Linked DNA regions of Homo sapiens. The protein of the gene in region 2 purifies or fractionates together with the protein of the main gene of each other region. This does not show direct contact. Each region holds a gene or a part of one and is shown on either strand. Other genes may lie near its edges.

Region 1 (3,813 bases), on a different chromosome or scaffold from region 2:
ATCCTCTCACTTCGACCTCCAGAACTGTTGGGATTACGGGCATGAGCCACCGTGCCTGGCTGTGTTTACATTTTTTTCTTCCTAGCCCCTGATATCTAGAAATAGCTGAGTGATGGCAAGAACTGTTCCCTTTGCACAGGCATTTGTTATAGTTCAAGTGCAGGCTGAAGAGTGAACAACAGATGCCGGAGGCTGTGACGAGACACAACCATGAAAGAGAGCTGCTGCCAGGCTGTGAGGCAAAAATGAGATACTGAATATAAAAATGCCAGGATTCGGCCCGGCGCGGTGGCTCACGCCTGTAATCCCAGCACTTTGGGAGGCCAAGGCGGGCGGATCACGAAGTCAGCAGATCGAGACCATCCTGGCTAACATGGTGAAACCCTGTCTCTACTAAAAATACAAAAAAGTAGCTGGGCGTGGTGGTGGGTGCCTGTAGTCCCAGCTACTGGGGAGGCTGAGGCAGGAGAATGGCGTGAACCCGGGAGGCGGAGCTTGCAGTGAGCCAAGATGGCGCCACTGCACTCCAGCCTGGGTGACAGAGCAAGACTCCGTCTCAAAAAACAAACAAAAAAACAAAACAAAACCAAAATGCCAGGATTCCTGTGAAACTTATATTCACTCTCCCAGGTCTCTCCCACCCTCCCCTGTCCTGCTCTGTGCTTGGGAAACTAGCCTTTGATGCAGCCTCTGGCTGCTGGTTGTGTTCAGCCAGTGGGGAGCAATGGTGAGAAATGGGAAGGAGGGAGAAGACTGAGGTCTTGGTCTTAACTTTGAGGCTCCTTCCCTGAGAGGTCACACTGGATTAGCTGTGTCCCTCAGCCCAAAGTCACAACTCCTCTCAGCAGACTCCAGGGTTCCAGCTGTGGCCCCACCCCTTGCTTCCTGGGATCTAGGATGGCTGCTCCTCAGTGTTGCCAGCCCTGCTGTCCTGCATGAGCCTGCGTAGTTGCCCTCTTCCCTGTCCATAACTTCCGCACAGCCCCTTTATCAAAAACTTTTTTTCTTTTTCTTTTTTTTAGACAGAGTCTGGCTCTGTTGCCCAGGCTGGAGTGCGGTGGTGTGACCTTGGCTCACTGCAACCTCCACCTCCCAGGTTCAAGTGATTCTTGTGCTTCAGCATCCCAGGTAGCTAGGACTATAGGTGCCCTCCACCACAACAGGCTAATTTTTTGTATTTTTAATAGAGACGGGGTTTCACCATAGCGAGGCAGGTCTTGAACTCCTGGACTCAAGTGATCTGCCTGCCTTGGCCTCCCAAAGTGCTGGGATTACAGGCGTGAGCCACCATACCGGCCAAAAACTCTTTTAATTACTGTTGCCTGCTGGTGCTGACTAATGAGGTATTCAATATTCTCTATTTTCCCTTTTATTAAAAATTTGGTATAAAATATATAAATCCTTTAATATATTTCTGAATTTTTTACAAGCCATTACTGAACAAATACTTTTTGATGTTTCTCAATGTTCTTTAAGCACTCATGTAATACTTTCCTCCATCAATCCAAAGTCCAGCATCATCACAAGTCCTACCATGTTATGAGAATTATGTAAACCACAGTGTTTGCCTTTGTATCCTAGTTTTAAGAAAACTCTGTTAAATTTATTAATCATTGTCAATAGTTAAATTGAGTTGAGTATCCAGGAACAACTATTACTCTGCTTCTTGAAATAATTTTTAAAACTGGTTTTCATCCTATTTTGCCATTGTCTTTTCCACTGTTTTTAATATGGTGAATCATCTAAATCCTTTTGGGAATATGAATAAAATACATTGTAATTAATAAACATTTCAATGTAAAAATCAGGCCCACATCATCATTAAGACTGTAGGAAAGGACCAAGAAACCCAATTTCATAAAAGTCCACTTGAAAATAAGCCCAAGACGCAAGAAACAAAAAGCCAGGAGAATAGCTGGATCCCATCCACGGGCATCTGGGTCCAGACAGCAAATCTATAACCACCCCCTTCTCTTCATCCACGGGAAGCACCTCCGGCCCTGGGTAGTAGTTTCTATTTCCTCAGTCTCCTGTGAGGCTTAAGAGACATTTAGGAACAGCCCAAACTTACTCTTGGTGTGGGGCTCCTGTCTTGGTCAGCAAGGTCAGCACAAAAAACATAAAAATCACGAAGACTGCAAGACCAACCCAAAATCCAATCACAATGGAATCTGAAAGACAGTTAATTCTGGGATTAGTATTTCACAGTAGTTTAAAACTTGAACATTCAAGAATCAGAGCTTTTTGGAGAGGCTTTGGTACATGAAACATGAAAGGAAGTCAACAGTCTGATCCGCAGTTGGCTGGAGACTGATAAGATGTAAAGGATGAGGAGGAGGGAAGAGTCTGCTCCGCCTCCAGGTTTCTGTCTCAGATAGCATGAAGGGATTTAGGCCTCATTGACTCATGCTTTCCATATCTCAAGGAAGGAACCTAGACCAGAGCATAGGTTATCTAGGACCTCAAGATTCCACTAATGTGTTTTGAGTTAGAAAATAAAATTTTTAGCAGACTATCAACTCAAGTTTTAAGTGCATTTGGATTCCTACTGTTAAAAGAAAAACTTTAGACAAATTAAATTTAACAGATATTAACTGTGCAAGGAAAACAAAATTCTTGAACCGGGAAGCTCCCAGAATCAGAATAGATTCAGAGAGACTCTGGGCTGCCTCATGGTTGGTTAAGATTTAGGGACAGAAAAAGGAAAATGATGTACAGAAAAAAGAAGCAAGGTACGGAAACAGCTGGATTTGAACACCATTTGAACAGCTGTCTGCCTGGGAGTGCCTGAAGTGTAGCTGCTGTGATTAGCTGAGACTGAGCTATTGTTACAGAAGCATTGGCTAGGTTTTCAGTTTGCTTACCTAGTAAGCTAGGTCACAGCTCATACCTAAGAATGCAAGTATGCAAATAATGGAGGCCTTCTTGGGCCAAATTTTAGTTTAACAACTCAATTGGTTAGCATCTCAATTAGGTAGCAACTTTGCATTCTCACTTACGTTCACCATGGATAATTCAGGCTCTCATTACTTCTTGCAGAGAACATACAGATGGCCTCTTGAGTGCTCTCTCTGCCTTCTGCCTTTCCCTGTGCTTTATTTCTGTACAAACCTGCTTTAATCACAGCCCTGATGATATTGCTCTTTCATGAAAAGCTCTCCAACAAAAACAGAACTGACCCACTTTTCCAGAGTAAAAGAGATTCCACACATAAAGCACTTTATACAATGTCTGACATCTGAGAAAACAGTACACCACAGGTGCTGGCTACTGTCATTAGAATTGTCATTTTCTCCCAATTTACCACTTTAAAAGCCATGTGTTTCCAATCAAACTAGGGGACACTGTGTCCCTGTATTTACCTTAGCCACAGCTTCCTCACAGCCACACCTTACCAGGGCTCTTACCACTACCTGGCTGGAACAACTTTTCCCAACGTGGAGCTAATGAAAGTGTATCCATCCTTCCAAGTCCATCCGCTACACTATCTACTAAGCCTCAACTAATTTCCATAATTGATGTGTTGTCTCCCTCCTTTGAACCCAATAACATTTTTGTCTGTAATTCCCTAAACAGGGCTCTCCTTGGTCCTATCTTGGATAACAATCACAATTCTTTATCTCTAGGACCAGGGTTAGATTGGATTGTCTACAGAACTTGGTACTTGCACAATAAGGCCTCAAATCTAGGACACAACAGAGTTGAATCATTCTACATTTTTTGGCCTACACTAAGAAGCTTGTCTATGTGGAAATACAATGAGGATGCTTAGCAATTTTCTAAAAATAAGTGATTAGAGCTTAAATATTAAAT
Region 2 (3,913 bases):
TGGCTCACTTCGTGTCTAACCAGTTCTACTTAGAGAAGAGTTTAGGGACACAATGCTTCGTTGGCGGGCTAGCACCCAGACACAGGTGTCAAGGCCTGTGTTTGCTGATTCACAGACCTAGTTTAACGTTTTCTACATCTTCAACCTTAGCCTGCTCTGCCAATGCCTACAACTTCCAGCATCTAAATGGAAGGACGAGAGGCAGTACAGACATGGGTAAAGCTGGTAGAGAGCTGGAAAAACAGTAGAGATCTCAGATTCTGCTATGATGCCCCACCCCCTACCCCCAAGGCCCCTACATGGTGCTCATGCACATACCAACCTGGGATCAAGAGCAGTTTGCTTTTTTCCACTGTAGCTGCAGTTGCACAGAGCCCAAAAGGAAGACAGACCTGAGGACAGATCAGAAAGGGCGTTTTTGAGCCATTGGTGGACGAATTCTGGTTCTTTTCCTGATTTGGGCCCCTGTGGGTCAAAGGTTTTCCCCCCTCAGGGATCCTCTTTTCCTCTTCAGCCTCTCCTCCCCCAAATATTAACTAAGGCAGATGCCACGCCCCTTTCTCTGCACCAAAAAGAAAGGGCCTGGGGCAAGGGTGTCTTTGAAATTAAAAGAGAGAAGATGCAGGAGGAGCCTCTGGTCCCATACTCTACTCTTGTCTCTGCCACACCCACACCAGGGGGCCCCAGACAATTCCAACCCCAGCACTGACCCTCCAAAGATTCAAGGCTGTTTCTCCTTACTTCAGTTCAGTTAGAGCTTCATCCTAAGGACAGACTGAAGAGCAGAAATATAGACTGTCGACGTTAGACAATGAAAGCCTGGTGGATGGATCAGCATCCAGGACAAGGGTCTCAGTAACTGCCTTTTCGTGTTTGCACATCAGAATGTCAAATGATTCTACCTCTCAATTCCTTCAACTCTTCTCACCCCACCCCTCCCACCTCAATCCTCCTCCTGCGCAGGCTCCCCAGGCACTCAATCCCTCCTTCCGCTTTGCCCCGCCCCCGTCCGCCATTTCTCCAGGACACACCGCCACACCCCTTCTCCTGCAACGAAGCGGGAGGGGAGCGGGGCGAGGGTGCAGCAAAAGCTGGATGGGACGCGGTATGGGGGACTCCTGCCAAACAATTCAGTGTTCCCCTCCCAGGATCACCCATCTTTCGCTCCCCAGCCCCTAGGCCTAGCGTTAGCCTGCAGAAGAGGGGCCTCAACGTCTGCCTTTTCGGGTTCAGGGTCGAGATTTTCCACGATTTCTCTGCTATGGGCTCTACCTCCCACTTCCCACAAATCCCCCCAACAACCGCCATTTCTCCCGCCTGCATACCCGAATTCCTTTTCCAGGACTGAAAAGACGGGGGGTGAACGGCTGTGTGGGCCGGAGGTGTCTGGAAAGCAGTCTGCGAGTTAACAAGGCGGTTTAATACCAGATTCTCTCAGGGTCCGCCCCCTCCCCCCCACCTCCCGTGAAGCCCAGACAGCGCCAAACCCGCCACCTCTCCAACAGCAGCTGGTACACCCATTTCCCAGCACTCCCAAATCACAGAGGGTCGGCTGGGGGATGGGAGGGTGCCGGGGCGGTGGTGGGGAAAGTCAGGGTGGGAGTGTGCCGCCCAGATTGTTACCAAATTGCATGCCCCACCCCCGCCTCCTGGTTACCCTTTCCCAACCTCCCTGCTGGCCTTCTATGCGCTGCCACGTTTATTTCTCTTCCCTCCTCCTCTCAAAACAGGACGGAATGTGGGGTGCGGGCCTGAATATTATAAACAAAACCAAAAAACACTGGCTGGAAAGGAAGTAAGCGGATTCTTCGTAAAGTCTATCAAAAGTCTTTTCGTTTCCCCCTCCCCCTTTCCCCACCGCCCACCAAAATGAGCCGCGTTTGAGCACCTCAGGTCTGGAAAGCCGGCCAGGAGTGGGGGAGACCGAGGCACCCGCGGCCTCCGACTCCCGCATCCCTAGATTACCCCTATTCAGGGGTCCCAGACTGTGCCCACCCTCACACCCACCTGCCCGAATCTGGGGGAATTTTCTCCTCCTCCTCCTCGCCTGGGTTAAACGCACGGCAGCGAGCTGCGCAATAGAGTTGGTACCCAGAGGAGGACGGAGAACGACGGTCAGGGCTTTAAGTACCTTTGCCCACGTCAGCTCCTGGTCACGTGAGGGCTGCATCGCCAGTAAGCTTGGGTCCCCAATTTCCACTCCCACCAAGAGTACGAGCCCCCTCCTTTACTTCCATTCCCATCTCACCCCACCACATCAGGTCCTGTCACTCATTTTTTTGTCTTTGTAGTCCTGGAGGCCTAAAGTAGCCCCTTCTCCCTGCTTTCACAATTTGCCTTTCTCTGGTTACCTGGGAGGGGCTGCATCTTCTCGGAGGGCTACTGAAAATTTTTACTTTTTTGTTGGGGAATTGTTTCATCCTTTCCTGGGCTACTGGACACTCTTCCATCTCTCCACCTCTAGTTCCTCAGCCCCTAGTCCCCAGGATTTTCCTTGCAGTTGACTCCCTGTTCCAGTATAGTTAAGGGGCAGAGTGTCAGAAAGGAGACAAGGAGTGGGAGTGGGGTCTGTACTTCTCAAATACTTCTGTTTTGTTTTCAAAACTATCATCATGCTTTATTTTTATAGTAAGAAAATTCAGTAAAACAAGAATTCAATGTGGGAAGTAGCAACAAAAAAAGGGTGGGCATGTTTTGTAAAGAAAAAAGGTTTCCTGCGTCCATTGGAAAGCACCATTAATTTTGGTTAATTTTTACCGAATAGAACATGAATTCTTTTGGTCACATAGGAAATAGTTTTTAAAATATGCTAAGGTATTTGAACATCTAAAATGGAATATTTCTCAATAAGATAAGCATATTTCCATGTGATCTGTAAATTGATCCACAGAGAGATGTTCAGTTCTTCAATCTTGTTTATTTTGGACAAATAATACGCTACTTTTTTCTCCTTCTGGGACAGCTTTTAAGTTGCATAAATAAATGATCCTGTCTTGTCCTGTTAGAGAAACACATTTATTTAATATTCCCAAACCATTGCTGACTGCTGTGTGTGAACCTCCTGTAATTTGATGGCTGTAACCATGACAGTTTTAAACACCTGTCTTCGGATTAGGTTCCAGTTAATGATTCAACTCTGGGCAAAAGGAAGAGCTGTGAGGCCAAGGAAACTGAGTGTGGTGGGTGCAGAGTGGTCAAATCCTCCCTGCCCTGTCAGGAGGAGGAGGGAGATGCTGTCTCTCTACTCCCTCCCATATGCCAGAGCCGCTCATCTCCTGCATTCAGGTACCTGGCTCAGTTGCTCACACCCAAAATATATCCAGACAAGTGACCAAGATGCAGACCTGGTTAAATGTCTTTGGCTCTTTCCGTCCCTCCCCCAAGTTCCCAGAGGAAACCCATTGATGCATAGAAAGGATTGCTGTTCTTACCTGACCCTGCAGCTGACGATTTGTGAAACCTGTGATTTCACAAAAAGGTTTTTGTGATCACACAAAAAGTGATTGTTGGGGGAAGTTCCCAGGCCTGACTGCTGTCTGTCCTTATTCGTGGTTACCAGTGAACCTTGCTCCAAACACTGTCTGCTACTACCACTTGGCCTAAGAGATGCATCCTCCTGGGCCTCTCACTTCTGCCTCCTTAGCTCCAGGGGACCTAGGAAGAGTCTAGCCTTCCTGCAAGGTTACTGCCTGCCAGTACACATCCACCTTGGTGCCCTCTCAACCAAATGTATGCCCAGGGAACAATCCCCACTGATGAACCCAGAGTAGGTGTTCTCACCCGGTCAACTCTGTAGACCACCTGAAATTGCATTCACCTGCAAAGCTTTGTTTGGGATTATATGTGTGGTTAAATGCATTTTTTTCAGGAACAGAGATCACTGACCTCATCAGTTTCTCAAGGGGTCTGTAAC

The links.
Region 1: the proteins of ARMCX2 (region 2) and MRAP2 purify together in Homo sapiens (co-immunoprecipitation; one large-scale study listed by IntAct). This does not show direct contact.

What each region holds. Positions count from the first base shown.
Region 1 is NC_000006.12:84,061,251-84,065,063, reverse strand, and holds part of MRAP2 (melanocortin-2 receptor accessory protein 2), read right to left. Parts: intron 2,172-3,813; coding exon 2,072-2,171; intron 1-2,071. UniProt on the Homo sapiens protein: Modulator of melanocortin receptor 4 (MC4R), a receptor involved in energy homeostasis. Plays a central role in the control of energy homeostasis and body weight regulation by increasing ligand-sensitivity of MC4R and MC4R-mediated generation of cAMP.
Region 2 is NC_000023.11:101,657,751-101,661,663, forward strand, and holds the start of ARMCX2 (armadillo repeat-containing X-linked protein 2), read right to left. Parts: upstream 2,101-3,913; 5' UTR 2,008-2,100; intron 1,785-2,007; exon of another isoform or gene 1,752-1,784; 5' UTR 1,669-1,751; exon of another isoform or gene 1,658-1,668; intron 1,399-1,657; 5' UTR 1,326-1,398; intron 864-1,325; exon of another isoform or gene 776-863; 5' UTR 711-775; intron 393-710; 5' UTR 323-392; intron 1-322. UniProt on the Homo sapiens protein: May regulate the dynamics and distribution of mitochondria in neural cells.